Linked DNA regions of Homo sapiens. The protein of the gene in region 4 purifies or fractionates together with the protein of the main gene of each other region. This does not show direct contact. Each region holds a gene or a part of one and is shown on either strand. Other genes may lie near its edges.

Region 1 (4,240 bases), on a different chromosome or scaffold from region 4:
CTCAGGCTTCCAGGCTCTAGAACCACGGACGACCCATGTCTGCAGCTGCAGCTGCTCAGCCTGTGGCACTGTTCCGACAGCCCTGGAAACACTTGTGCTCCCAACCCCGGCACCCAGCCCCACCCGGTACCGGGAGGGACTCGGGGCCTTCCCCACCCTGTGTGGAGCTCAGGCCTGCCCAGGCGGGGGCCCCGGCAACAGGGAGGGTACGTGTTGGCCGATGCCCGGGAAGTCAAGCTGTGGGGAAAGGCCGGAGGAGGCGGGTGCTGTGGGTGGGCACAGGGAGGACACCGTGGAGGGAGGGGACAGGTGTGCCAGAAAGGTGGGTCAGCAGGAGCTGGCGGGAGATGGAGCTGAGGCCACAGGCAGGAGAGGGGATGGTGTGAGGCTGGCCTGGCCCTCTCAGGGGCTCCTAAACCCACCCGGATTCCAGACTGCTACCGAGCCTGGGGCAGTGGGGTATGCCCCTCACACCTGTACTTCCCCGCCACCCACGGCGGGCCAAGGGCAGCCAAGGAGGCTGCAGCTCTGGGCCCTGCTCCTCAGCATAGCCCTCACCCAACACCTGGCTGCTGCGTGCTCCCGCCTGGGTGTGGGGCCTGGAGGTGGAGGGAGAACCGCCCGCTTCCCTGGCCCAAGCCTCAACACCCTACACTGCACCCCCCACCCCGTCAGGAGACTTCAAGCGGCTCAGGGCACCTGCCCAGGCCTGTTCCCAGACAAAGAAAAGCCACCACAGGCACGGCAGCGAGGAGCCCAGGCTCCGGGCAGGCGGCTCCTGTCTGGAGCCCCCACGTAAAGTGGGCAAGATCCCGGGCCCCACAGGGCTGTGCTGGCGACTGGCAAGATCCAGGCCGGCTCAGGGCTCTGGGCACGTCGACACTGGACAGGGCCAGGGCTGGGCAGAGGCCCCGCATGTAGGAGTGCCCACCCCAGCCTCCACCACGGGTCCAGTCTTGATCTGAAATAACTGAGCCAGGCCCTGTGAGGACGGTCTGGCTTAAGAAAAGGCGTCCAGCCTCTCACTGGCCCGGGCACGGCAGATGTGGGGCCCCAGGCCAGACCTGACCAGTGTGGCTTCGGGTGAGCCCCTCCCCTGGCTCGTCTCCTGTCTAGTGCCAGCCCATGGCTGACACCTGTGCCATGCACATGGATGCCATAGAACAGACATGGGCATGCTCAGACACCCACTAAGCTCTCCTCCGAGGTCTGATGTGCAGCCCTGCGGTTCGGCCACCAGGTAGGTATGCCCCCCGTCCTGCTGTAGGGAGGCGTCCTCGGTACCTGGGAAGGCGCGTTAACCACAGGCTCACACTGTCCCTAGAGATTGCTGGTGTGAAGGTACAAGCCCCAACAGACTGGACTGCCTTATCTCCCTGGCTTGGCACCTGTGGGCACCTGAATAGGGTACCTGTCCACTAATCCTGGGGCACTTGGCCCAGTGTGGGTGGCTGGTCTGCCCTGTTGGGGACATGCAGGGCTTCGTGGCACACGCTGGGAACAGCCCTCCTAGCAGTCCTGCCCCCCACAGGCAGTGGAGCCAGGCCGGAGGGTGAGGCCCAGCTGTGTGGAAGTACGACTCTCTGGGCGGCACGGCCAGGAGGAGCTGGGCAAGACCGGAGGCAGGGAGGCCAGGAGGAGCTGGGCAGGACCGGAGGCAGGGAGGCCAGGAGGAGCTGGGCAGGACCGGAGGCAGGGAGGCCAGGAGGAGCTGGGCAGGACCGGAGGCAGGGAGGCCAGGAGGAGCTGGGCAGGACCGGAGGCAGGGAGGCCAGGAGGAGCTGGGCAGGACCGGAGGCAGGGAGGCCAGGAGGAGCTGGGCAGGACCGGAGGCAGGGAGGCCAGGAGGAGCTGGGCAGGACCGGAGGCAGGGAGGCCAGGAGGAGTCCCGGTTAAACGTTCTAAATGAGCCTAAGAGATGGAGCCCAGGCCCAGGACAGGAGAGCGGGCTGGGAAAAGCACGAGCCTTCCAAGAAGTGCAGAGCCTGGGACAAGCAGCCTGGCCTGGCTTTACTGGGCAGTGGTCAATGCTGTAGCCAGATCTGGCCCTAAGAGGAGCGCTTCACCAGGCTTCGGTTTACTCATTTGTAAAACAGGTCTACAAAGACCCCTTCCGTCTGATGTGTTAACCAGACAGTCATGGGAAACGCTCCACAAGCCGGGTTTCCCCGTGTTCTAAGAGCACCCGGGTTCATGAGTGCTCTTAGGGTACCGGATGCCATTAACTGAGAGGGGTGTGTGTGGGCCTTTGCAGAGGGTGTCCGGGGAGAGGGGGGACACAGCCCGAGGCTGCCCACGAGGTGCACAGCCCCAGCACCTTCTCCCTCCTGGCCACCTTCACAGGAGGTCACGATTATTCCCTTTCTCTCCTGTGAAAAGGCCCGGGGACACCGGGGATGGGATGGGGGTGGGGGCATCTGTGCCTGAGGAGTGCTGTGGCCTGCCTGGCATGGGAGGCTTGGCGGTCCAGCAGGGACCCAGGCCATTGCATCACGCAGGTGGCCCTGTCGGATCAGGGCTCCCCTGGGCTCCGCTCGGTCCTCACGCTGGGGATGATGAGCTCCTCTCATGGAGGGAAGAGCAGCGACACAGCAAAGGCTGAGGACCACCTGGGAACCACGCTGAGCCACCTGGACAGGACAGGGCACAGGGAACTGTCTGGTCTGGTGAGGGGCTGTGTGCCAGGCAGCCTCCGAGAGGCCCGCTGAGCAGGACTGAGAAGCAGATGCTGGTGGGCTCTCCCGGGCCCAGCCGGAAACACCCTTTCAGGGATGTGGGAAGGAGAGGTCCAGGCCCTCTGAGGATGGTTCCCCAGAGTCTGTGTGCCAACCACCCAGGCGGTCAAAAGTGGCACAGAGAAGAAAAGATTCCTTCGGAGGGGCCCAACGAGTGGGTGCTTGGTACAGGCTCCAGGGCACGCTGGTGCCCGCTCCAGCTGGTAGGCGGGCTGCCACTCTGGGCACAGGAGCGGCTGGGCAGTTTCTGTGCCACCGACAGTCCCATGCCCCACTCTGACTTCTGCCCCCAAAACTAGACCTTAGGGCCCCTCCTCTGCCTCAGGCTGGGAGACCCTGAGAACAGGGGTGTCTGCTCCAAGGAGACCCTCCTCTACCCTCCATGTCCCGCTCCCCACCCAGCACAGCCAGGTATAAAGCCAGGAAGGCCTGGGGGTGTCCTCCGAGAAGCTATCCTGGGCCGGGAGCCAGCCGGGTTCTGTGGCTACAACAGGGAAACAGTTAGAGGTGGTCCCAGCGACCAGGGAGCTCAGGTGCCAAGGTGGGGCGCTGAGACCCCAGCAAAGGAGCAAACAGACACACATCACATCACATCAGACATCAGGAGGCCAGACAGGTGCTCTGGGAACACCTATGCCCAGACACAACCTTGCAAGCAAAAGCAGGAGGCCTGCTGGCACGCGGGCAGTGATTCAGCATGAGGGCTCCTGGCAGCGCAGGGGCACCCGGGGTGCCACTCGGCTCCGCCCTTGCCTTCTGTGCCGTGCCCTGGCATAAAGGGAGGGTGGCCGGGTGCCCTGCTGCAGTGCCACCGTCCAGCTGGTGGCACCCAGGCCTGCTTCCTTGCCCATAAAATGGGATGACCACTGCTGTCACTGCAGCCTGGCCTGGCTGTCCAGAGGACAAAGGAAGTCTCAAAAGGGAGCCCAATATGTCCCGACACTGCCCTCTTTCATGAGCTAAGTCTCCTGTCACCCACTGCCTTTTCTGGTCCCTGGGGCAGAGGCTGGGAAGGCCCGCCACACACCCAGGGCCAACTGCTCTCCTTCCCACGAGGAAGTATCAGATCTCTACCCCACCTGCTCCGGGCCAGCGAGGTGCCCAACCCCAGGGGGTTCGCATTCCCTCTGAGGAGGTCCCCCTGGAGAAGTCTGGATGCAGGAGAGAGGGGACTGAGAATGGTGCCTACTAGGCCACAGAGGGTCCAGGGCTCCTGGGAGGATCTGCCGCCCAGGGGCCACCAGAGGGCGCCCGTTCCACGGAGCCCAGGCCCAGCCGACAAAGCAGGAGGGGACACTGGGCTTGGCTGCCCCAGGACTGCTGCGACCCGAGGGAGTCACCCTGTTTCCCTCAGCCCACGTGGCTCCCACACTGTCTTCTGTACCCTGGGTCCCGAAGGTTACTCCCCACTTCTGCAGCCATAGGGGGTGCAGGGAGAGAGGTTCCTGTCGGAGGGGCACCGACTGGAGAGGCAGTAATCCTGCCCAGTGCAGTCCTGGCCTTGC
Region 2 (4,240 bases), on a different chromosome or scaffold from region 4:
GAGCAATACTTTACAAAATTACTCTAAAAGGGTTCCCCCAAATAAAAAAGCTTAAGGAAGGGGGAAAAAAAAGTTGATTTTAGATCAGAACAGGTCAGTGAAAAATAAACAAGAAAACTTTGCAGACAGGGAAAAGAATTGCTAAGAGTGAAAAAGCTATGTTCCATAGAGATTTCCATTTTAATGCAACTGCTATTTATTTTCAGGAACACAGTGGGCAATAAAATGGTAGAGGGAAAAAAATCAGAGAAAAGCAAGATGTATCTTTTCTTTTGCTTACCCCAATACATAATAAAATATATTAAATATATATCATTCTATACTTAGTGCTAAGGCACAAATGGGAGACAAAAAATACCCCACAGTAGGTTCTTGCCATAGTAGAGCTTTAGCTGAGGAGAAAAACATGCATTAAATATCACATTTAAGAAATATAATTAAAAGACATATATATGGCTATAAAAACTCAGAAAAAAGCACCTAGATATTGTCCAGAAAATGTAAGTAACAGAGCTAGCCGTCGGAAGAAGCAAAGAGAAATATATCAGGGGAAAAAGAAGGGAAGGCTATTCTAGATAAGCATTAATAGCATGTGCAATGTGGTTAATGAATATGAAAGACCATCTAACAGGAATGCTCATGATACACTACCAAAGCTTGCAATATTTAATAATGTGGGTCATGTGAGTGGCTGAATAAATATGTTCTGAAAGAAATAATGTCAACTATAAGTAGCCTTGCTGCTAAACTCCCTAGTATTCATTTCTCTTTGCCCAGGAAACTTGCTCCTCTCTCTGTCATTCCAATGCAACTCTCTGGCCCCAATCTACTTTCCCAACCTCATTTTGTATTGTTTCTCTGAATCTAGCAACACTAGATTATAAACCACTCCTCAAATAACTTACGTATTTTCTTCCAGGCTCCTATGTTCTTGTTTATATTATTCTCTTAAGTCTGTATTTTACATTCTTAGCTATTAAAGTTCTACTCACCCTTAGGGCTCATTTCAAATGCTATCTTTTCTTTGAAACTATTTATCCTCAACTCCAATAATTAACCATTCCTTTCTGTTCTCCCACAGAACTCCACTTATTACGGTGCTTAAATTTGCTTTGTTTTTTGTTTACATATATCCTTAATCACAGTGAAATGCATTTCATGGTTGTGGTAAGGGTTCACAAGTATTAGAATGACAGAAAGCATCAAAAGTGAAGAAAACAACAAATGTATCTAAAATTACTATTCTAATTATTCACAAGTCTCCAAAGAAACCCGGGCAATGTCCTTTGATATGCTAATTTCAAGTTTATTAAATAATCTCCCATAAACTTAAAACCTCTCTCTCTTTTTTTTTTTGAGACAGGATCTTGGTATATTGCCCAAGCTATACTTGAACTCCTGGCCTCAAGATCCTTCCACCTCAGCCTCCTAAGTAGCTACAGGCTAACGCCAACATGGCAGCTCTAAAATCTTAAGATTCTGCTTAGACTGTGTCTATTCAAAGGTGAGAAGAGAGTTGGAGTGACCAAAGTAGTAATATTAACCAGAGAGGTAATGTGTCTGTAGTTTTTCCTCCTATTTAGAAACAGTACTAAAATAGAGGCATGACATTTTCTGACAGGGCATGTACTAACTCTGGCAGATTTCCATTATTCACAGTAAGAGCCCTAAAATGGATCTAATCTAAATGTTTCCTAATGTATTATTCAATCTCCAGGCAAGAAATTGACATATATTAGTTGGCCACAGGGCTCAAATCAAGACAGTAAAGCGCTATTAACAATACCCTTTCAGCAGCTAACCCTCCAACATTTTCTTCACATCCCACGAAGTACTTGTCATCTCCTTAAACTACTGTTACCTCTTATACCCCAGTTTCTTGCAAATAATAATGCTGCCTGATACTTTCCATATCCTCAGAATGAACTTACCGTAAGTCTCATAATAGGAGCTGCTTAACTTACTTATTTAAACCTTCAACAAAACAGGCCAGTTTAAGATTTTTAAAAAATTGCCCAAATACCTTAACATGTTGACCAAGTCATCTAGGAGATAATACCATTTTCGATTTATCAAGAACCTTATTAAAACTAAAATTAGATATTTCTATTGGCTTTACAAGAAAGAAAGAGTGATACATTGTGATTACCTATAAATTCCTGGACCCAATCCCAGATCTACTTAAGCCCTCTTGGGAGCACAGCACAGAATTGTCTTTACTTTGGCACTCTTCCCAAATAGATACAAAGAGATGGTGTTTTAGGGACACTGTACTCAACACTGGACTCAATTGCCCGAATTACTCCAAGATAACATTCTACACTAGTCCACAGACCTATTCTGCTAAATTTCTCCACAAGAAACGGGACCAAATTCCACTTCTAAATGACCACACCATAAATGAGTTTTCCAAGAAACGTAAGAATGGAGGGAAAAAAAAATTGTTTCTAAAAATGCTTTATACCAACCATGACTAATCAGGTAGGCTGTGGGGAGTAACTTCTTGGAGAGAATACACACACACACAAACACGCACATGAAAACACGCTCCTACACCCCACAGACAAGACATAGAGGAAATGAGGGATAAATCTCAACTAGCATTTATTGAGCACCTACTATGTGACAGAGATCATATTGGACTTCAGGGATATATGGTGGAGAAAGATCTCTCTGTTCCTCCAATAATCTCATGGGTCTTAGTCCCATTTTACAGATATGAAAGCCGACATTTAAGAAACATCCTGCCATGGTGGGCAGATCGCTTGAGCCCAAGAGTTCAAGACCAACCTGGACAACATGGTGAAGCCCATCTCTACAAAAAACACAAAGATTAGCCAAGCATGGTAGTACACGCCTGTGGTCACTATTCAGGAGGCTGAGGTTGGAGAACTGCTTGAGACTGGGAGATAGAGGCTGCAGTGAGCTATGATCACGCCACTGCACTCTAGCCTAGGCACCTAAGACCCTGTTTCAAAAAAAAAAAAAAATCCTATGATGATCAAACTGGAAATACACAGCATAGTTAGCACACGAATGCAAGCCCACCTAGTGCCAATGCTTGTTATTATTTTCCACTCTAACACAGCACCTAAAGCCTTAACTGAGGAGGGGGAAAAAAAAATCACAAAAATCTTCCTTCTTGACATTTAAATCTATTCAATCTTCCTTATATGAGGCCAAATAGTTTGAAGGCTTTAGCCATATTAGTTTCAAAATAATATGTGATTTTGATCAAGTGCGGGTGGTGATAGTTTACATGGTAGCTATCATCGTTACTTTACATATGTAACACTTTCATAGGTGTAATAGACTTCAGGCAATGTTGTAAGTATTCGAAACATATTAACTTATTTAATATTCAAAACCAACCTATGAATTAGGTACCATGACAGAAAAAAAAATGGTTAAATAAAGTGCATGAGGCCACCAATTCAAATTCAGGTCATCTGGCTCCAGCCTTCATGCTCTTAATACACCACTTGTAAACACAGACATTGAGACTTGAAATGTTAAGAAAGCATAAAAACAACACTGTTTCAATAAACAAGAGCATACAGTCACGTATCTGCCACCACAGTCAATCAGCCTTCATTTTTTCATTCTAAAATTGGTATGTTTAATGTACTTAAAATGAAGGAGGCAGCAGATTTACAATTGCTCCTTAGTGTGAGGTTGTTAAAAAAAAAAAAAAAAAAGGCCAGGCACGGTGGCTCACACCTGTAATCCCAGCACTTTGGGAGGCCAAGGCGGGCAGATCACTTGAGGTCAGGAGTTCGAGACCGGCCTGGCCAACATGGCGAAACCCCGTCTCTACTAAATATACAAAAATTAGCCAGGCGTGGTGGCGTGCACCTGTAGTCCCAGCCTCTCAGGAAGCTGAGGTGGGAGAATCACTTGAACCCGGGAGGTGGAGGTTGCAGTGAGCCGAGACTGTGCCACCGCACTCCAGCCTTGGGGACATAGCAAGACTCTGTCTTTAAAAAAAAAAAAAAAAAAAAAAAAACACCACTTGTACTCTCTAGCCTCTTAAGTCTAATAAATCTGTGTATGCACAACAGTTCTTGATATTGCCTTCATCAGTTTAAACAATGAAGTGTCAAATTCCTAAGTTACAAATACCAAGTAGGAACTGGAGATAACAAGATTTATAAAATATGATACATTCCCAAAAAGGCAACGAGGGCCACTGCAAGTCAGTTTAATAACATAATTAACCGCCAAAAGTCAGAACAGGTAA
Region 3 (4,240 bases), on a different chromosome or scaffold from region 4:
CATTTAAAGATTGACCAAGTATCTAAACACAGATGTCAAGACACCAAGAAAACTGTAAACTTTGACCAAGCTTTATACAGCATATGCCTCATGAGTAGTTATTTCACAGCAAGTTCCACAGAGAATGTTTTCCTCATCAGCTGACATTTAGTGAGCACTCTCTGAGTAAAAAGTACTGAGCTTTTTATGATGTTTATTTATATAAAGAAGTCATGGTTCCTACCTTAAGGTGCCAGCATCTTAAGGTGCCTAAATTATGAACAGAGAATAATCTGTTCACAGAATGCAGCCAGATCATTACTACTCTGTACAAATTTCTTTTAAAAAATACTTTTTTCTTGGCTAATTTGAGTTATCATTTAATTACAAGTTTTCATTATAAATTAATGTATAGCTTAATTATAAATTAAACCAGGATCATTCCTTTCAATTGTTCAATTATATCTGGAACATACACTTAATATTCACATAGCTTCTCTTCAATTTTTAAATCTCCAAAATACCTTGAAAATCTGTGAACTTTTCATTTCAGAATTCTATTGGATAATTCATCTTAGAGGTTAAATTGCAGAAGTCAATAGCTCTATAAAAATACAAATACACACATACACACACACACACACACACACATCCATTATACATTTCTGTAAATGAGTAAGTATCAAAGATACACCGGTCAAGTCAAAAGTCACCTTGTGCAGGAAGAGTGACAGAAGACAGCTGGATGAGACATAAACACTGAATATTGGCTGTCTGTTGCCTCCAGGCCCTTCCAATTTCTTCAAACTAAAAATATTCTGAAGGTGTTTAGAATGAGACTGGTCTGGCTTCTAAGAACCACAGTCTATGGCTCAAAGGGTGAGTTCCCCTGGAAGTTGCCACTTTTCTTTTCCTCCTCTCCTAAATTCCTGTGGCTATACATAACCTAGCTTAAAAGGCCTTGTTGGCGGTCATTATTAAAGGGAGAAAAGAGAAAGCAGGAGCTAACTGAACAGTGGATACAACAAGGAAACACTTAAAATCACAGTGCCATAAGTGCATTTTCTAATGATCCAGCTAAAACTCTACACTGATAATCATTATTCCAAATTATTATGCAAACAATCAAGCATTAACTATTTATTGAGCACTGACAATATACAAATTAAGTACTAGACCAGATCCTAATTTCAGAGCACAGAAAAGGACAAACTCAAAAATAAAACAGAACAAAATACATTTGTTTGGACAGAATATCCTGATGAGGTTAAGATTTGTGCCCCAGGCTGGGCACGGTGGCTCACGCCTGTAATCACAGCACTTTGGGAGGCTGAGGTGGACAGATAACCTGAGGTCTGGAGTTCGAGACCAGCCAGGAAAATTCATGGTGAAATCCCGTCTCTACTAAAAATGCAAAAATTAGCTGGGTGCGGTGGCAGGTGCTTGTAATCACAGCTGAAGCAGAAGAATTGCTTGAACCCAGGAAGGAGAGGTTGTAGTGAGCTGAGATTGTGCCACTGCACTCCAGCCTAGGTGACAGGGTAAGACTGTGTCTCAAAAAGAAAAAAAGAAAAAGATATGTGCCCCAAAGATACAGATTTGCCTTGCTCCGTTTCATGGTCATAGACTTTTATCCCATGCCAGCCTTCTTACAGACGTGTGCTACGGGACATAGGGGCCCAAGTAGGGTATCTGGAAAATCAACAAACACTAGAATTGGAAAAACAAGCAAAGACTACAGCACATGTGTAATTACCAGCTTGTACAGGCATCTCGTGGTTTTAAAATAGTAGTTCCAATAATGTGAGACCTTAAATTGTCTTTTCAACATCACTGATGATGAGTTCTCAGAATCAGTGTATAGATGAAGAAAGTCAATTTTATGCTTATGATATTTAAAGAACCGTTCTTGTTTTGTTCATTACATCTGTAACATTTTATTTTCTAATTAAACTTTAAAATTATGTCCTTCCACATAAAATGGCATCATAAATCAAAATGAGAATACTTAAAACCCAATTGTTACACCATTGTCAAAGTCTAATTACATAACGGTCATTTTATAAACAAATGAAACCCCTCAGGGCATGTCATGAGGGGATATTGCCTTTTCTAGGCTGAAGTCACTTGGCATCAAACTCATCTTAAAAGGCTCCTAAGGTGTGGTAATATCTATGACTCATGAATTGTCCTTTCATTGCTGTACTGATTACATGATTTCCAAGATTAAATGAGCTATTAGATTCTGACTTCATTTGTTTACTGCACCCAATATTTATTACAGTAAATATCACGTTCATTAAGTAAAATTATTGCTATCCACTTGCCAGATATTACCAAAGAGAGGTGGGGGGAGAGAATCTAGTACGTGTATTATTAAATCAATGGTTCTATTTACCCCAAAGGCAGTAGTGAAGAGATGGAAAGGTGGCTTTATCCAAAACCCCAGGAAATCAACCTGAGGCACCCGTAAACTAGTAAGAACTCTTCAAAGGGGCTAGCAGCTCACTACCCTGAAATGGAGGAAGCCTAACCAAAGTGGGGTCCAGCAGGGCACACTCTATGGTGGAATGAAGAGCGCACTGAGGCTGAGGGATGGCAGGAAGAGAAGGCAAGGGACCAGGTGGTAAGAAGCTCATTCAGGATAAAAAAAGAGGAAACCCACAAGTGAACTTGAGTAATTGGTGACTTTTCTGAGCTTCAGTATCCTCTTCTGTAAAAAGAGATGGGTAAACCAGAAGGTCTGAAGCCTCCCTTTGATTTCACAAGTCCATGTTTTTATGCTTGGGGTTGCATGGAACACATGCAGTAGCAAAGAGCCCAGGGGTCAGGCCCACCTACAAGCCACCCCTGCTCCACACTGGGGTGGGCAGGTCTGCCTTTCCAAGTCTCAGCGTCCTCTGGAGCCTGCAAGCAAAGAAGTGTGGCACACAGGCAGTCACCTCCTGGGAGAAGCCCAAGGGTAGATACAGTACTTCTAACTACTCTCATTTTTTTTTTTTTTTTTTTTTTTTGTAAATAAGAGCACCTGGAATAAATTGAATACTAAGTGTACATAAGCAGCATACATTTCACTTACTATACTCTACCACATGTTGTACGTGCTGCTTGGGATAAAGTGTTCTCTCTTCTGAATGTTTTTACACAGCTTGCTACTTTAGAGTACATACTTAATATTATCCATTCCCACCGCATTGAAAGAGGCCTGCCAAAAGTTAAGGATGCCAAAAGAAAGGCAGGAGTGCAGCGCACATGCTGGAGAAGGAGAAACTCTCTAACCACTTTTAACATCTTGTTTTTATCAAGACTCTCATGTCAAATGAAGATTATTCCAGGACTATGAGAAAAACGCCAGAAAATGGGCCCTTTTGAGTGCAAATTCAGGAGAATGCCCAGGTGTGAAGCACAGTTGACCTTCAGCAACACTGAAAAATTGGAAACATTTGTGTTGTGTCATCTTCTCCTACCTCTTCTTTTAGAAAATTTTCCTCTCTTTCCTACCTCACAGCTTCCCACTCTGCCTCCTCTTCCCCTGCACCTCTCCAGGACCCCATCATTTATATCACAGTCTTCAAAGCATCCCTCCCCAAACTCCAGTCCTTCTGGCCAGCTTTTGGGGAAGAAATTGCACTCACAATTTAATCCATACTAAATGTTAAAATCTGATAATGGTTGAACTTGGCCTTTCAAAAGTTACCTGCAGTTTAGAAAACATGTAGGCACAAAGTGTCATGCCAAAGGAAAAAAAATTCCAGTGACAGATGTTCAGGTCAGTTGGACAAAACAGTCTGAGGAATGAGACCATAGATTTTTCAACTTTTCAAACAGGTCTAGAAATCTGAGCCATAATGTAGTAGGAAACTGTGGCTACTATTAACTCTTCTCCATGTTTTCTGGTCAGTTTTATTTGTTTTGGGGGGTCTCCTCATGGTTTGGTCAACTATCAGTAAACATCCAATATGTGAGAAAATAATATACTGTACTTAAATTTATGTCCAGGTTGGGCTACATAGAAATAGATGAAATTTGTCATTTTTAGATTTGTATTCTTGTCAGTCTATTGCCTGGTACAGGTATCCTTTAAAAAAAGAGTAGTCTCTTTGGGGACTTGGGAAGAAAGGGTGGGAAGTTGGGGAGGGACAGGACTACAAACTGGATTCAGTGTATACTGCTTGGGTGATGGGTGCAACAAAATTTCACAAATCACCACTAAAGAACTTACTCATGTAACCAACTACCACCTGGTCCCTAAAACCCTATA
Region 4 (4,240 bases):
TCAGGAGGAAAACTGATAAAATCCAAAACAGGCCTGTCGCTCGGTGAGTAGTGTGGTGCCAGCGCGAACACCTCAGTTTCGACAGAGTGACAGAGGTATCACGGTCATGTCATGGCATTAGGGGAAGCTGGCTGGGGGAAATTATGGAAATTCTGTGTCGTCTGCAATTTTTCTACATACCTAAAAGTATTCCAAAATAGTTGATGTTTTCAATAATTTTTGTTAGGAGGCTACTTTGAGAGCTTCAGGTAAACTCAGGATCTGAAAACATCCTGTGTCATTCAAAACCTGACCCTGACTCAACGCTGAACGTTAACTTTTAAAATGTAGGGCTACTGAAGGGAAATAATATACCTGGAAGGAAAAAAACCCTAACAGAACAAGTTTAGTATGAATTTCTTACTACCACCAACTTCTTTGGCATGTTTTGTCCAAAAGGTCTCAGAGTTTGGATGCAAACCCAGCCTCCCAGCAGAAGCCAGCTGTATCAGGCGAGTGCAGGCCGCCTAGAGGTCCTCCAGGCCCACACGAAGAGCGCGTCCCACTCAGAACCTCCCCCACTGGAGGCCGATTCCCTGCTCAGGCAACCCAGACCTCCCCGAGTCGCCACCCCAGCCAGGAGAGCTCCTCCCCTGCTAGTCCACGTTGGGGCCCAGACTCTGCCCGGCTCTCTGAAGCAGCCCCACAAAGGCCGGTCACCCTCTCCTGCTCAGACACTAACTACCCTCCCTCTATGGGCACCATCTGCAACGGCCGTGCTATTGACTGTTTCCCTTCTGCCCCTGGGGCTCAGAGAGGGACAGGAGCATCAGGTGGACCGTCCCCCTTCAAGCTGTAGAAGCCATCTTTTTCACACAACATTTCCTCAGGCCAGGAGCATGGGGCCCGTTCTGTTCATAACCACTTTTCCTAAACCAACCGGGGCCGTCCTCACCCTTTCTGCCCCAGGCACAAAGCTCAGCGCCAGCAGCATCTGCACAGGAGAGCTTGCTAAGATTTTTTTTTAAGCATCATTTTGAGCTTCCGACTTTTTACGGAATGAGAACGCAATGCGTTCACCAAGAAAATCTATATTCAGATGCACATTTTAAACTAGATATCTGATAATAACCAGGTACGTACATACAATCAAAAGACTGTAATTCTGACCGATGGAAAAAAGCCATGAAAGACAAATGCCAGCCTGCAGGAAGAACATGTGAGTTACCCATGGAAAAGCAGCCGGAAGCGCTCCGAGCATCTGAGCGTCTGAGCCCGTGCTCTGAAGGAGCTGTGTACTCCCTCAGCCTGGCGTCCAGAGTCAGGCCCAACTGGGAGAGAGAAACGCAGACGAACCTAGCGCTCGCCCTCAGGAAGGACCCCCTGATGAGGTCCACATGGGGGGAAATGAGCAGCCGTCAGCCTTCCTAGCTCGTAAGTTGGGAGCCTGCTCACTAACCTGCCTCCCCAGGGTCTGGCTGCTGCGGCTCTCCAGATCAAACCTTCCCAAGAACAGGGCTGAGCAAAGCCAGCGCTCCATTCTTCCAAAGACTGATCTGTCCCCATCCTTTCCCACAGGGGAAGTCCAAGCAGTGCTGTGTGCCAGCCAGCACTGGCACACGGTGGGTCTGAAGGTCAATTAGCCCCGCCCCCACCGAGGTCGGAGAGCTCTCACTCACTGAGCCCTGGGCCTGGGTGCACAGCGGGGACTCTGAGACAGGTGGGCTGCTGAGATCCTCACTGCTGGGCTCCCCAAGGACCATCAGTCACACAACCATCCTGCGGATATAGCTGCAGCTCTACAGGTGGCTGCACCCACCCACAGAGCACACGTCCCTTTTGCCGCCACAGGACACCTTAGAAGCTACAGCAAAGTCAAGGCCTAGGAAAAGCCTCATGGCACCTTGCCCAAGCAGGAAAGAGACCAGGAGAGTAGGGCCCCGCTGTCAGGAAGGAAAAGCAGCTTAAGGTTAGAAGGGCCACTAAGGAAGGCCGGGCACGGTGGTTCACACCTGTAATCCCAGCACTTTGGGAGGCCAAGGCAGATGGCTTGAGGTCAGGAGTTCAAGACCAGCCTGGCCAACATGGTGAAACCCCATCTCTACTAAAAATACACAAATTAGCCCAGCATGGTGGCAGGAGCCTGTAATCCCAGCTACTCATGAGGCTGAGGCAGGAGAATCGCTTGAACCGGGGAGGTGGAGATTGCAGTGAGCCGAGATCGCGCCACTGCACTCCAGACTGGGCGACAGAGCGAGACTCTGTCTCAAAGCACTTTGGGAGGCTGAGGTGGGTAGATCACGAGGTCAGGAGTTCAAGATTAGCCTAACCAAGATGGTGAAACCCCGTCTCTACTAAAAACACAAAAATTAGCCGGGCGCAGTGGTAGGCACTTGTAATCACAGCTACTCAGGAGGCTGAGGCAGGAGAATCGCTTGAACCCGGGTGGCAGAGGTTGCAGTGAGCCGAGATCGCGCCACTGCACTCCAGCCTGGGTGACAGAGTGAGACTCCATCTTGAAAAAAAAAGTTACCTTTAGCTCATCATCTCCTAAGCAGTATTCTTGCCATAAATACTTAGCCTGAACCTAATCTAACAAGGAAACAATGAGACAAATCCAGATTGTGAATCCTGTATTTATATAAAATACGAGACAACTACCCTCATATTTTAAGAAATGCTGGCCAGGTTGCTGTAGCTCATGCCTGTATTCCCAGCATTTTGGGAGGAGCAGGTGGTAGGATCACTTTAACCCAGTCCAAGACCAGCCTGGGCAACAAAGCGAGACCCCATCTGTACAAAAAATTTTAAAAATTATAATTAGCCAGTGCTGGGCATGGTGGCTTACGCCTGTAATCTCACGCTTTGGGAGGCCAAGGCGGGTGAATCATGACATTAGGAGTTCGCGACCAGCCTAGCCAAGATGGTAAAACGCCGTCTCTACTGAAAATATAAAAATTAGCCGAGTGTGGCGGTGGGCGCCTGTAATCCTAGCTACTCATGAAGCTGAAGCAGGAGAATTGCTTGAACCCAGGAGGCGGAGGTTACAGTGAGCCGACATCACACCACTGCACTCCAGCCTGGGGAACAGAGCCAGACTCCGTCTCAAACAAAAAAAATTAGCCAGGTGTGGTGGCACAGGCCTATAGTCCCAGCTACTCAGGAGGCTAAGGCTGGAGGATGGCTTGAGCCCAAGGGAGTTCAAGGCTGCAGTGAGCTATGATCATGCCACTGCATTCTAGTTTGGGCAACAGAGCAAAACTCTGTCTCTAAAAAAAAAAAAGAGAGAGAAAGAAAGAAGAACAAGAAAGAGCTTTGAGGAGGACAGGTGACCACTGAGGAAGGCTGCACGTCACCTTTGCATTAGAAAATGCCACGTTACAATAAAATTCCACCTCTACTAAAAATGCAAAAATTAGCCACGACTGGTGGTACACACCTGTAAGTCCCAGCTACTTGGGAGGCAGAGGCAGGAGAATCACTTGAACCCAGAAGGCGGAGGTTGCAGTGAGCCAAGATCGCACTACTGCACTCCAGCCTGGGCAACAGCACGAGATTCCATCTCAAAAAAAAAAAAAAAATGCAATGTTAATGCTATCTCGGATGTGATGATGAAGAGGTTGTACAGGTGACAGCTTCTGAGCTCAGAAGGCATCTGGAGAAGGATTCTGGGGTGAAATGCTATCATGTGTGTGACTTACTTTCAAATAATAAAAATAATAGAAAAAAATTTTGGGCCAGGTGTGGTGGCTCATGCCTGTAAATCCCAGCACTTTGGGAGGCCGAGGTGGGCGGATCACGAGGTCAGGAGATCAATTCCATCCTAGCTAACAGGGTGAAACCCCGTCTCTACTAAAAATACAAAAAAATTAGCCGGGCATGGTGGCAGGCGCCTGTGGTCCCAGCTACTTGGGAGGCTGAGGCAGGAGAATGGTGTGAACCCAGGAGGCGGAGCTTGCAGTGAGCCGAGATCGCGCCACTGCACTCCAACTTGGGCGACAGAGCGAGACTCCGTCTCAAAAAAAAAAATTTGGGGGAGGTGAGGGGGTAATGTATACAAGCAAATATGGAAAAGGTTAACAACTGGTAGAATCCAGGTGAAAAGGCTAGGGATATTCATTGTACTATGCTTTCAACTATTCTTCGGTTTTGAAATTTTTCAGAACAAAAATTAGTGGAGAAAGGTTCATCCTCAGTCCAGTAAGTTCCAGGAGACAGAGCCAGACCTACCTTATTCACCACTGTTTCTCCACTGCTAGCT
Region 5 (4,240 bases), on a different chromosome or scaffold from region 4:
TCATTTTCACTAATAACATAACTCTCCTTTTGATTGAAAGTGTTAAAATGTTCCTCCTAAAAGCACTTATTTTTTAGGCTCGTTCTTCAGATTTGCCCCATATCCTAAGCAAAATGCCTTCAATATGAAGTGGATATTGCTTGACCGTAGGGAGCTTGTCCATACTGTACTCGAGAATGTAGACACAAAGAAAGAATGTCTGTGTCAAATGTTATCCTCCGCAACTTAACGTTCTCTTGCACTTTCAGCTCAAGCTCTTGGACTCACCGAGGCAGTAAAAGTACCATATCCTGTGTTTGAATCAAACCCGGAGTTCTTGTATGTGGAAGGCTTGCCAGAGGGGATTCCCTTCCGAAGCCCTACCTGGTTTGGAATTCCACGACTTGAAAGGATCGTCCGCGGGAGTAATAAAATCAAGTTCGTTGTTAAAAAGTAAGTTCTTTTTGCCACTGTAGTCGTTTCTGGAATCAAAACAATAAAATGACATTTCTGTTAAGATGTTTTTCAAGCTAGAGGTGACAGGCGTGGCTGTAAGTCCTTGATGGCAAAGCCTGGCTGTGAGCTGCAGTCCGGGTACTGTCCATTGCCCCTGCCCATACTCAATCATCTTCATCCGTGCAAGGAAAATAGTGACAATCGCCTCCGCGGAGTCACCGTGAGGCCCCGTGGTGACTCGCAGTATGCCTGAGTACTTGAATGGAAGTTTAATTTGCTGGTTTTTATCTGCTCTGTTATTCCTGGTCAATCTTGAGAGCGACTAAATATTGATGATTGAGTTTCTTTCTTTTTTTTGAGACGGACTCTTGCTCTGTCGCCCAGGCTTGAGTGCGGTGGCGCAATCTCAGCTCACTGCAACCTCCGCCTCCTGGGTTCGAGCAATTCTCGTGCCTCAGCCTCCCGAGTAGCTGGGATTACAGACTTGCACCGCCACGCCTGGCTAATTTTTGTATTTTTAGAATAGATGGAGCTTCACCGTGTTGGCTAGGCTGGTCTGGAATTCCTGACCTCAGGTGATCCACCCGCCTCAGCCTCCCAGAATGCTGGGATTACAGGCATGAGCCACCGTGCACGGCCTAATGATTGATTTTCTTATCTACATTTCTGCAGAATTTTAGTGGCTAAAGAAAGTACACTAGTGTTTTTTTTTTCTTTTTTAATGAAAATAGTCACTTATTTACTCTTCATAAAATGGCTTACCAGTCATGGGAAGGAAAAGTCAGGGTCTTTTGTCCACAACACTAGGAATTATTGTGTTACAGGATGATTCTGTGAATGCCTTTAGAAAAAAAACCCTGATCACATCACGACCGTTTTACTAGCTGTGAGGCCACCACTGTGCTGGCTACTGTAACACTTCTTGGTTTTCTTTCTAGACCTGAACTAGTTATTTCCTACTTGCCTCCTGGGATGGCTAGTAAAATAAACACTAAAGGTAAGAGACGACGTGTACTCCGTATCCTATTTGAGCGCATTAAGACACTCTTTATCCGCATTCCTTAAATCATACGGAATCGGCCAATATCTCTGTGGGGCTTGGAGTTGTTTACTTTGCTTTCTAAGGTATTTTATTTAATGGAACTATTTTTCTTTTTTTTTTTTAAAAAAACAAAACATTTCATTGGAAATGTCACATTTGCAATCCCAGTTCATTCATGTTTTCACAGCTTTGTTGAGCCCCTGTGGAGGATTACACTACAAGTTTAATTCTGCAGGTTTCTTTGAAAAGAACCAAACTGTATGAATTTTAATACTCTGCTCTTATAAAGCATCTCCTTCTGTATTTTTTTTTCCCTACAATATACAAAAGGAACTCTGCTTATTTTACAGCTTTGCAGTCCCCCAAAAGACCACGAAGTCCTGGGAGTAATTCAAAGGTTCCTGAAATTGAGGTCACCGTGGAAGGTAAGGGCCAGTCCTCGGTATGTTTCTGTTCATTCTCTAGTTTACTAATTATGTCAGTTCACTAGCTATGTGTTTATACAGGTTTATACAGATGACGTTAACCAAACTAGCTTTTAACTGTGAACAGCTGCCTGTGATAAAGCTAAATTTCTGAATGCTTCTAATTGAAAATTTTTAAATCCTTAATAGAAAACAGATAACATGGATCACATCATAAACTTCCCCCAAGAAAAGTCCTAAAATGCTTTTCCTTTATCATAACAAATAAGGGTGCAGAGTCATGTGGAATGTTTTATCTTTTTTTTCCTCTTCATTTTTTTCTATTGTTTTAAGGAAAGAAAGTTTAGGGTGGTTTAAACAGCAGTGCCTTGAATAAAAGTATTTTCTTTTTCTTTTTTGAGACAGAGTCTGGCTCTCTTGCCCAGGGTGGAGTGCAGTGGCACAATCTCGGCTCACTGCAGCCTCCGCCTCCCGGGTTCAAGTGATTCTCCTGCCTCAGCCTCCCAGGTAGCTGGGATTACAGGCGTCCACCACCAACTCCAGCTAATTTTTATATCTTTAGTAGAGACGGGGTTTTACCACGTTGGCCAGGCTGGTCTCGAACCCCTGACCTCAAGTGAGCCACCACGCCCAGCTGGTTCTTGTCTTTTCAGGCTCACAGTGTTAAAATACTGCATACAATACTAAAGACAATCTCCAACCAACTGTCAAGTATGGATATTTCTTCCATCTCTTCATAAATGCAGAAGGAAATCACTGCATTAGGATCATTCTCTACATCCCAGGTGTCAAGTTTTTAAATAAGAGTTTGCCGTACTGGTGTTGAGTGGCGCAGAAGTCCCTATTTAGTCATGTGGCACACTTTCAGAGAGCCTGCTTTCTCATAAGATAGCCAACAAGCATCCATGGACAACTTACACCTGATTAATTATTTCTGTTCAAAAATGCCAAGAATTAAAAATATATTGAACCCTTGACTTTCCTCCTTCCGGAAGAGATCAGAGGAAGATCTCTCTTATATACAAGATGCCAGCCTTTCCTAAAGGGCAGAGCCAAGTTCACGGGGCCTGGGAGGCCTGCTTTAAGAATACAAAATTAGGGCCAGGCGTGGAGGCTCACGCCTGTAATCCCAGCACTTTGGGAGGCCGAGGCAGGCGGATCACCTGAGGTTGGGAGATCGAGACCAGCCTGACCAACATGGAGAAACCCCATCTCTACTGAAAATACAAAATTATCTGGGCCTGGTGGCGCATGCCTGTAATCCCAGCTACTCAGGAGGCTGAGGCAAGACAATCGCTTGAAACCAGGAGGCAGAGGTTGTGGTGAGCCGAGATTGCGCCATTGCACTCCAGCCTGGGCAACAAGAGCGAAACTTTGTCTCAAAAAAAAAAAAAAAAAAGAAGAAGAAGAAGAAGAGAAGAAAAATGGGTTTCTGTAGAAATAGAAAAATGGTTTCTGTGGAACTCGCCGGAATGACAAGAATACCCATTTCAATTTGAACCTAGCTTTGTTTTCTGGCACAGGCTGGACTTGAAGATTGTAACCTAGAGACACTTACGTCATTAAATGTGTGTTGATTATCATTATTTTTTCTGTCTTTTAGGCCCTAATAACAACAATCCTCAAACCTCAGCTGTTCGAACCCCGACCCAGACTAACGGTTCTAACGTTCCCTTCAAGCCACGAGGGAGAGAGTTTTCCTTTGGTAAGTAAGCGTTTTATTTTTCTTTCTTTCATAGTTTTAAATAGAATACGTTCATTATGTTTCATTTTACCAGGTGAATTGTTCCTATTGGTGAGTCAGTATATATCAAAGGTTAAAGGAATAGCCCGTAGAGCCAGGCTGCCTGAGTTCAGATCTGAGTTCAAATCCGATGCCACTTGGGCAGGCGAATACACCCTGCCTCAGTTTCCCTTTGTGCAAAATGGTAATAACATTACTTTCTTTCTCATGAGGTTATGGTGAGGATTATAAATACTGTCATTTAAAGTACTTAGAACCATACCTCGCATGTAGTAGAGACTATAATTTGTGGGGGCATTTTGGGGGTTTTCATTTGTTTTTTCTTTATTTTAGCATTTGTTCACTTATTTGTAGTCAACATAAAAGCAATGTACTAAAACAGTTTGCTTATGTATCAGGATGGGAGTAGTTGTCAAGTCATATCATGGTAAAAGATTATGCATTTTTTATTTCTTCTTAAAGATGCACAAATAAGGCCAGGCGCAGTGGCTCACGCCTGTAATCCCAACACTTTGGGAGGCCGAGGTGGGCGGATCACCTGAGGTTGGGAGTTCGAGACCAGCCTGACCAACATGGAGAAACCCCGTGTCTACC
Region 6 (4,240 bases), on a different chromosome or scaffold from region 4:
CTTATTCATATTTTACTGACAGTCCTCAGGTGATGATATTTCCTCTTGCTATTCTACCTAGCTAATTCCTTATAAATGCATTTCTGGGGCTCTAGTTTCTTTGGTATCTAAAACATTGTTGAGATTCAATGTAAGGACATTATATATATATATATATATATATTTTTTTTTTTTTTTTTTTTTTTTTTTTTTTTTTGAGTTGGAGTCTTGCTCTGTCACCCAGGCTGGAGTGCAGAGGCTCGATCTCAGCTCACTGCAAGCCCCGCCTCCCAGGTTCATGCCATTCTCCTGCCTCAGCCTCCAGAGTAGCTGGGACTACAGGCGCCCACCACCACGCCTGGCTATTTTTTTGTATTTTTAGTAGAGATGGGGTTTCACCATGTTAGCCAGGATGGTCTCGATCTCCTGCCCTCGAGATCTGCCCGCCTCAACCTCCCAAAGTGCTGGGATTACAGATGTGAGCCACCGCGCCCGGCAAAGATATTATTTTAAACATTAGAATCATATGCCCTTTATATTGATAAATAAGCCCTTGTAATTATTTCCTTCAGCGCCTTCCTAGAAATAATCTTTCTGTATGCTCAAATAAACGTTTAGGAAATTAACAATTTAAAATGGGCTATTACGGATTTTACTGACAGTGCAATAGAGAAACATTTGTAAGGGTACACACCATCTTTATGCTAGGATGTAAATATTGAGGAGACCAAAGTGTCAAAAAAAAAAAAAGAAGCATTGTAGGACAGTACCAATAGTTATGAAAAATACTGTGGCTCTTTGGCACAGCCCTCCAATAGAAAAGTAGTGTTTGGGAATAATCCTTATACAAATACACCTTCTTGGAGTGACATAATACCAGATTCCTGTTACGTATTATTTTTAACTTTACTTCTTTAAGTAATTGTCTTTCATTTTATTTGGAGGACTGACCTCACAAGTGCCTTAAATGTCAAGAAAGAACTTAAACAAAAGCAGATATCCTCTACACAGGAAATATTCAATGTTTAAGTAGTGGAATGTAGAATTATCCCTTATATCCAAGGTATAGAGATGTTATCTTCAAGAAAGGCCCAAAAGTAGATTAATGATTGATCTTATTCATAAGCCCAAGGCAATGCATGGTATGAAATTACAAAGATAAGGGGTAACAAAAGAAATTCTCTAGGAGAATCTATACTTGGTACTCATTAGTCCTTCCTAATCCAGTAATACAGGTGTCAGCAAAGGGCTCTTCTTTTACCATGAAGGAATTTGGCCACATTGACATGTGTTGAAAAAGAAGAAATGCCAGGTGCTGATGTCCTGAACAATAACTTGTCTCCATTCGCAGGTCCATGAAGACTGTCATCTTGACTCCCTAGAGGATTATAACCTCTGAATGGATTCTTTCATGAGTATTTATCATCCTTAAAACCCTGATCAGAAATATCAAATGATCATAGTTGCAACGTGCCTGCTTTTGCACCATTGGTACTAAAAGCTTCTCTGCTATACTGCTGATAAGTATTAACATTAATTTTCAAACCACATAGAATGGCTTAAAATCCTGTTCTCTCTCACACAATGCAAGGAAAAGAAAGCCAGAATTATGCTTTGATATTTAACTGATTAAGAGCAAGGACCACCAATTAAGAATTTTTACCTTGGTTTTTTTTTTTTTTTTTTTTTTTTTTAAACATTGGTTTTAAAAACAGAATAAACAAGGAACACCAATGAGAAAGAAAGCACGTTTTCAATTACCTTGGAAACTCGGTTTGCAACTTCTCTGCCCACAGTCAGCCCCTGGACAAAGGTCCTGGCAGCAATGAAGGCGCGGGTAACCTGAATCTTCAGTTTCCGGGGCACGTCTCCAAATGGCTTGAGCTGGTCAGTGTATTTGCTCACACATTCCAGGTAGTCTTCACTGAAGTGATACTGAGGGTTTATCAGCTGAAACATCCGTTCCAGGAGCCGAGCCCAAAAGTCATTGAGCATTTCCTCCAGATTCACATTACCCCCAGTGTAGTACCTTTTCAGCTCTGTGAAGAGGTCCTGGAAGACTTCTGAATTCTGCATGTACAGCATGCCATAGGTCCGTACAAACATATCATTTAGTGACTTTTCTGCATTCTCCAGGAGCTCTCGGAAAAATTCTGCAGATAAAACAGAAAGAAGTCATAAATTAATGAAATCTAGAAAGCCCAAGGCACCCACTTACCTTAAGTACAACTGCTTTTAATTGACATTTTCATGGAAAAACATATCCTGTGATTAAGGTGTTAATGGACAGATAAAAAACATATTTTAAATGGGATTTGACCTACATCTATGACCTTGTACAACTCAAAACAGAATACCCCATGATTTCCATTAACATTAGGAGTCTACCATGTAATCCTCCTCCAAAATAGCTCAATTCTTTAATCATTTCTTGTTAAATTTTAAATAATCCTATGGTTTGATACAAACTCAAATCAAAATATATTGCAAATATAACGTGCAGAGTATTGTTGTTTACATAATGATAAACACATTTGCTTCAGTTTATTTATAAATTTGTCCTAACACTAAATTCCATTAAATTGCTTTTATTTGAAATAGTCCATAAATGAGATGTTCAAATTAATGTCATATTTTAGACTCTTTCTAGTTTCTATATATAGCAATCAATTAGCAATGTTCAGATATTCATAATGCAATTAAATTCACTTCATAATAAAGCTATAATGAGCATAATTTAGGTGGCCATAATGAGTCAGAAAGCCTTAAAGTATCTTGGATTATCATTACAAATATAAACCATCATGTTATAGAACTTGAATAAAATATTGACAATTGGACTTTCTGGTTATGAGGTTCTAAATGAAAAAGTGCACACCAATAATTCAAATCTTCCACTTTGCAACAGCGCTTGAGTGTTACTGGGATCCCTTATAGGATGCAAAAAAATAAGACAAAAATTAAAGCCATTGGGTATCATTAGCCTCACTGGCCCTCATGCTAGTCTCCCTCAAGACACACTTTGTGTGTGTAGGGCACCTATCCTTTTGCACAAATAAGCTTGGGTAGAGCAAGTTCAAGTTTTATCTCATTTAGAGATTATAAATTGGGGTAGGGAAAGAGCTAAGGAAAGATAATGCTTCTGAGGTTATCAATCTAAGTTCCCAAGAGTAAAATGATTCTGCTTTACCTCTTCATAGTCCCCGTTTATTGCCTGAAACTATGCCCCTTCTCAGAAATGCAGGGACAAATCAAGTCCTGCATATTTCAAAAGCTCCAGGAATTTTTTAAAAGGACTCTTCTCCTTTCTGGGGTTCTGGGTATTCTCTGCTAAGATACAGAAAGGAAATAGTGACGAACACCTCTCCATTAATTCCATGGAAGCTACTTGTGCATTCTTAGAAGTTGGCTGAAGAAGTGCTTGGTTTAGCCACTTCAGTTCTGATTAATATACAATCAAACCATTGTCTTGATAATTAAATGGTGTCTATAATAATGATAAATGTTTTATATTTGTTTTCAAATCAGACCAAAGCAGCAATGAAAGTACTTTTCATTTGTTTACCTCCTTTCTATGAAATATATATATATTTTTAAATAGACATTCTGTTGCTACAGTGGCAGCAAAAACTGTGGGATTACAAATACTGTGTAATTTTGTCCAGGTCACCAAATGGTTTTTATTTTTACTAAATGTAAAATAAAGTTGAATATTATTAAATCTCTCTGAATCTTTAGGGATTCGGTAAAGAAAATGACTATTGAAGCAGATAGGGCGAAATTTGCAAAATTGAGAAGCATAAATTTATCAAAATATTTATATATGCTGTATGCTGATATTGCTTATCATTTTAGGAAATCAAGAGAATTTCATACTTTTTTCAAAAATGCTAGTTATCTAGTTTGTCCTAAAATGGAAACTATATTAAATTATTAATATAAAAGTATGAGAATATCATAAGTTAAACCTTCCGATCTGGAAACCAAGAATGAAAGTAGCTTGGCCTTGCTGATACAGGAACAGGGTGGAAGGCGTAACAGATTGTGAAAGAAGATAAAAAAGAATGGGAAAATCACTGAATTGAAAAATACTAATACAATGAGACTGGAAAGTGGATTCTAATCATGAGCTCTGCAGCCTATTCATTTATCTTCTTTTTGAGGTCAATTATTTTGTTGGACTTAGGAATTAAAGCTTAATTTATTGAATACAGAATACTGCCTTCAGCAATGAATAGTAATCAATAGTGTGGTCTGGATT
Region 7 (4,240 bases), on a different chromosome or scaffold from region 4:
GTCAGTTTGCTTTGTATATTTTGGGGCTTTGTTGATTGGTGTGTGTGTGTGTGTGTGTGTGTGTGTATGAATTGACCCTTTTATCAATACGCCATGTTCTTTTTGTCTCTTGTAACAATTTTTGACTTAAAGTCTATTTAGTCTGACAGTATAACCACCTCAGTTTTCCTTTGGTTACTATTGGCCACCTCATTTTTCCTTTGGTTACTATTTGCACATAATATTTTTTTCCAAACTTTCATTTTTCTCTATTTCTGCCTATGGATCTAAAGTGAATCTCTTGTACACAGCAAATAGTTGGGTCATGTTTATTTTAATCAATTTTTACAATCTGTCTTTTGCTCGGAGAGTTTAATCTATTTACATTTTAAAATAACTACTGATAAGAACTTACCTCTGATTTTGCTATTTTCTATACGTCATATACGTTTTTTGTTTCTTATTTACTCCATTACTGCCTGCTTTTGTGTTTGCTTCCTGTGTAAACTGTTTCAATTCCCTTCTCATTTTCTTTTGTGTGTATTTTTTTAGATATTTCATTTGTGGTTACTATGGGGATGACATTTACACCTACCTCTACAACAATCTAGTTTGAGTTGATACCAACTTAACTTCAGTAGTACATAAAAACTTTCCTCCTATACAGCTCCATCCTCTCTGCTTTTATGTTGTAATGAACTATATCTTTACACATTGTATGTCTGATAACAAAGATATGTAATTAAATTATTTTTCATTCATTTATTTTTTAAGTCCTGCAGGAAATAAAAAGTGGACTTACAAACTAAAATTACAATAGCACTAGCTTTTATATTTGTCCAACTATTTACTAAAAATCTTTATTTCTTCATACAGCTTTGAGTTTCATTTTATTACATATTTACCTTAGCATTTTTTTGTAGGGCAGGTCTAGTGGTAATGAACTCCCTCAGCTTTTATCTGGGAATGTCTTAATTTCTCCCCCATTTTCGAATGACAGTTTTGCCAGATACAGAATTCTTGATTGACAAGTTTTTGCTTCTACCACTTTAAATATGTCATCTCATTGCCTTCTGGCCCCCATGGTTTCTATAAGATATCGGTTGTTAATCCTATGGATGATCCCCAGTGTATGTGATAAGTTGTTTCTCTCTGCTGATTTTAAGACTCTCTTTGGCTTTTGACAGTTTGTTGTGGTGTGGGTCTCTCTGAGATCATCCTACTTGGAGTTTGTTGAGCTTCTTGAATTTGTAGATTTATATCTTCCACCAAATTTGGGGATTGGGGGGTCTTCTTTCCTTAAATATTCTTCATTCATTTTTCTGTCTTCTCTTTGTGGAACTCCCATAATGCAATGATAACCCACTTGATGGTGTCCCATGGGTCCTTTAGGCTCTGTTCACCTCACTTCATTCATTTTTCTTTCTCCTCCTCAGACTGGATAATTTTTATGGTCTTATCTCTAAGTTTCCTGATCCTGTCTTATGCTTGCTTATATCTGCTTTTGAATACCTCTAGTGAATTTTCATTTTTGTTATACTTTTCAGCTCCAGAATTTGTTTGGCTCCCTTGAATAATTTGTCTTTATTGATTTTCTCAGAGATGAGTGCCTGTGTAAGTCCTTCAGGTAGTATTCTGACAGGTTAGGACAGACATACACAATTGTGTATGAGGTCCACTCTGCTCCTTCTGGAACTAGGGACTTACACTGGCAACGCAGGGGCTCTTCAAGACTGCTACTGCACTGGGATGGACCTGGGGCAAGGGCAGGTAAAATGCCACAAAGCTTTCCTCTCTTTGCACTTTCTTGACCAGTGTTCACTTGGTTGCTGAACACCTCTGACTGTTTTCCAGAGTTCTGGCAAATTGAGTTGACAGTTTTTGCTTGTTTTCTGATGTTTCTTTGGGGTAAGAAGAGTTCAGAGCTGCGTATTTTGCTCACCCAAAATTTTAAATTTTGAAACCAAATTTTAGTTGGTTGCTATAGATACTAAAGATTTAACAGATTTATATACCTAGTGTACCTAGTTTTTTATTACATACCATTGGAGTACGATGTTTCACTTTGGTCTGAATAACACCATCTTTTTCAAACTGTATCATATCATTAAGTGGGTCCCATGGTCGGGTACTACATAAATGAAAAAAAAAAAAACCATTTGCTCAATGACTAAACAAAGAACTTTAAAACTTTCTATTCTATGATCCAATTTTATTAATAATTATATACATAGTTCTAATAATGAGATTTCCCCATACCTAATCTTCAGATCCTCAACTTATTTTATAGGCTAACTTCTATCATAGAGTCAAGCTTATAATGAATGCAAAACCAAGTTTAAAAATCTCACACTAATATACATGGTTTAATTAAATAAAAACTACTCCAGCAACAAATATTCTAGAAATAAAGGCAACAAACCATGCTAATACATTGTTTGAAATAAACTATTTTAAGTTACTTACTCTGCAAACTTGTAATGCCATTCTCCTGTGAGTGGATCAAGTTCAAATAATTTGCAAGACCACTCTTCATTTTTTGTTTTCCGATCCCTGGCAGCTTGTCTTTGAGCTTCTTCCAAAACATACTTCTCTTGGGTAGCTTCAGTTTGGTCTTTGGCATTTATGGCTCGAGTTACCCGTTGCCAGAGTCTAATACATGTGCGAAAATATTAAAAGTATTAAAAATGTAACAGAAAATAAAATCTATATAGAATAGGCCTCAAATCCCTTGTAGAGAAAATAATGCTCACATGAATTTCTGGCTTTGACAACACTTATGCTCATAGGCTTAGAAATGAGTCAAGATATAAATCCAGTCCCTTGAGTAGAGAGAGACCTGTTCATAAGTGGAGACTAATTTTTTTTACTTGGCAAGAGAAACTTACTACATAGACTCTTAAACTCATGATAGTAAGTGTTGAAGTGTTGCTGGCTCAAGATGATAGGATGTAATGAAGGTAAAGCTCAGGAATCTACGCTTTTAGCAAGCTTCCTAGATGCGTCTTACACTGTTTAAGATTCACTGGCTTCATAAAGATCCATTAATGTAATGCAGTGCTTCTGAAGTTTGGATCCATGAATTATCAGAGAATTTTTATAATCAGAATCTCTGGGGTCAGGCGCAAGTATTGATATATTTTTTAAATGTTTCCCCAAAATATTTTAATGTATTGCTAGTGTTGAGAACCACTGGTTTAACAGAAAAGACTACTGAGGTAAAATGATTTCCCCTACTAGTTCTTTCTTCTGTTAAATAAAAGTATATCTATATCCTACCCATCTAGAAAGGCAGCATGTTAAAACCAGAAAAGGCTTTGGGATCAGATAGACATGAGTCAAGTCCTAGAGCTGCCACTTCTTAGCTGGTGCACTTAAAGTTATTTATCCTAAGTCTCATTTCCTCATCTTCAAATATGCTGAATTATATACTCTCACAAATTATCATATGTATGCCTTGGCAAAGCTTATCTCTGGAAAAAGAACATCAAATGGTTATGGCTGAGACAGAATTTTTAGAACTGGTACATATACATTCTTCCATCTTTGACAACCTCAAATTTGAGTGTAGAAGGGAAGGTACACAGACTTGAATTCCCATGACAGAGAATGATATGTATGTGCAAACATGTAGGGAGGACAAAGTTGCATAATAAGTACTAAGTGCCTAGCAAAATATCTCTTATACATAAGTCTCTTTCTCTTAACACAAAGATATAACAACAATAAAATAGGGAATGTGTATACAATATTTCTGATTCAAAAATATAAGCCATCTAGCAAGAAGTTCATGACTTAAGAACAGAAATGATAGCCTTAGTTATTACCCAACTAATAAATCCTATAGAAGCCAGTCCATCCAGTAACTTTACTTTTGTATCAGAGAATGGAACAGAAGTAGATTCTGCACCACTCCCTTTACCTAGAGTTCTAATGCTTAAATCAGGTTAGAAAACTGTTGCCAGGTAGAAACTAAGAGTCATTAATTAGTCCTGTAATCTTATTTAAACAAAAACGTTCTTTCTTTCTTTTTTTTTAAGGTGCTGGAACAATTGAGAAAGAAAAAAATGAGTAGTTTTGAGCTACAGAAAAGCAAGACGATTTATATTATATTTGACATTCATATACACAAAAACAGAATACTGTCACTTCCACAAATGATAAACTATTTTGCTGAATTAAGATATGACAGAAGGTGACAAAATGACCATATCATTAAGGAATTGAAAAACTACTCTCTGATCCTCATGAAGTTAGCTGT

The links.
Region 1: the proteins of PDPK1 (region 4) and GPC1 purify together in Homo sapiens (affinity purification with mass spectrometry; 2 studies listed by BioGRID and IntAct, with this or other methods). This does not show direct contact.
Region 2: the proteins of PDPK1 (region 4) and STRAP purify together in Homo sapiens (affinity purification with western blotting, with the first as the bait; one study listed by BioGRID). This does not show direct contact.
Region 3: the proteins of PDPK1 (region 4) and FGF2 purify together in Homo sapiens (affinity purification with mass spectrometry; 2 studies listed by BioGRID and IntAct, with this or other methods). This does not show direct contact.
Region 5: the proteins of PDPK1 (region 4) and GTF2I purify together in Homo sapiens (affinity purification with mass spectrometry; one large-scale study listed by BioGRID and IntAct). This does not show direct contact.
Region 6: the proteins of PDPK1 (region 4) and GPC6 purify together in Homo sapiens (affinity purification with mass spectrometry; one large-scale study listed by BioGRID and IntAct). This does not show direct contact.
Region 7: the proteins of PDPK1 (region 4) and OSBPL8 purify together in Homo sapiens (affinity purification with mass spectrometry; 2 studies listed by BioGRID and IntAct, with this or other methods). This does not show direct contact.

The regions. Positions count from the first base shown.
Region 1 is NC_000002.12:240,438,181-240,442,420, reverse strand, and holds part of GPC1 (glypican-1 precursor), read right to left. Parts: intron 1-4,240. UniProt on the Homo sapiens protein: Cell surface proteoglycan that bears heparan sulfate. Binds, via the heparan sulfate side chains, alpha-4 (V) collagen and participates in Schwann cell myelination.
Region 2 is NC_000012.12:15,884,947-15,889,186, reverse strand, and holds part of STRAP (serine-threonine kinase receptor-associated protein), read right to left. Parts: intron 1-4,240. UniProt on the Homo sapiens protein: The SMN complex catalyzes the assembly of small nuclear ribonucleoproteins (snRNPs), the building blocks of the spliceosome, and thereby plays an important role in the splicing of cellular pre-mRNAs.
Region 3 is NC_000004.12:122,829,570-122,833,809, reverse strand, and holds part of FGF2 (fibroblast growth factor 2 isoform 18 kDa), read right to left. Parts: intron 1-4,240. UniProt on the Homo sapiens protein: Acts as a ligand for FGFR1, FGFR2, FGFR3 and FGFR4. Also acts as an integrin ligand which is required for FGF2 signaling. Binds to integrin ITGAV:ITGB3.
Region 4 is NC_000016.10:2,544,359-2,548,598, reverse strand, and holds part of PDPK1 (3-phosphoinositide-dependent protein kinase 1), read right to left. Parts: intron 1,772-4,240; exon of another isoform or gene 1-1,771. UniProt on the Homo sapiens protein: Serine/threonine kinase which acts as a master kinase, phosphorylating and activating a subgroup of the AGC family of protein kinases.
Region 5 is NC_000007.14:74,744,510-74,748,749, forward strand, and holds part of GTF2I (general transcription factor II-I), read left to right. Parts: intron 1-248; coding exon 249-432; intron 433-1,373; coding exon 1,374-1,432; intron 1,433-1,827; coding exon 1,828-1,902; intron 1,903-3,505; coding exon 3,506-3,607; intron 3,608-4,240. UniProt on the Homo sapiens protein: Interacts with the basal transcription machinery by coordinating the formation of a multiprotein complex at the C-FOS promoter, and linking specific signal responsive activator complexes.
Region 6 is NC_000013.11:93,828,046-93,832,285, reverse strand, and holds part of GPC6 (glypican-6 precursor), read right to left. Parts: intron 2,133-4,240; coding exon 1,741-2,132; intron 1,471-1,740; exon of another isoform or gene 1,331-1,470; intron 1-1,330. UniProt on the Homo sapiens protein: Cell surface proteoglycan that bears heparan sulfate. Putative cell surface coreceptor for growth factors, extracellular matrix proteins, proteases and anti-proteases. Enhances migration and invasion of cancer cells through WNT5A signaling.
Region 7 is NC_000012.12:76,367,192-76,371,431, forward strand, and holds part of OSBPL8 (oxysterol-binding protein-related protein 8), read right to left. Parts: intron 2,632-4,240; coding exon 2,446-2,631; intron 2,111-2,445; coding exon 2,023-2,110; intron 1-2,022. UniProt on the Homo sapiens protein: Lipid transporter involved in lipid countertransport between the endoplasmic reticulum and the plasma membrane: specifically exchanges phosphatidylserine with phosphatidylinositol 4-phosphate (PI4P), delivering phosphatidylserine to the plasma membrane in exchange for PI4P, which is degraded by the SAC1/SACM1L phosphatase in the endoplasmic reticulum.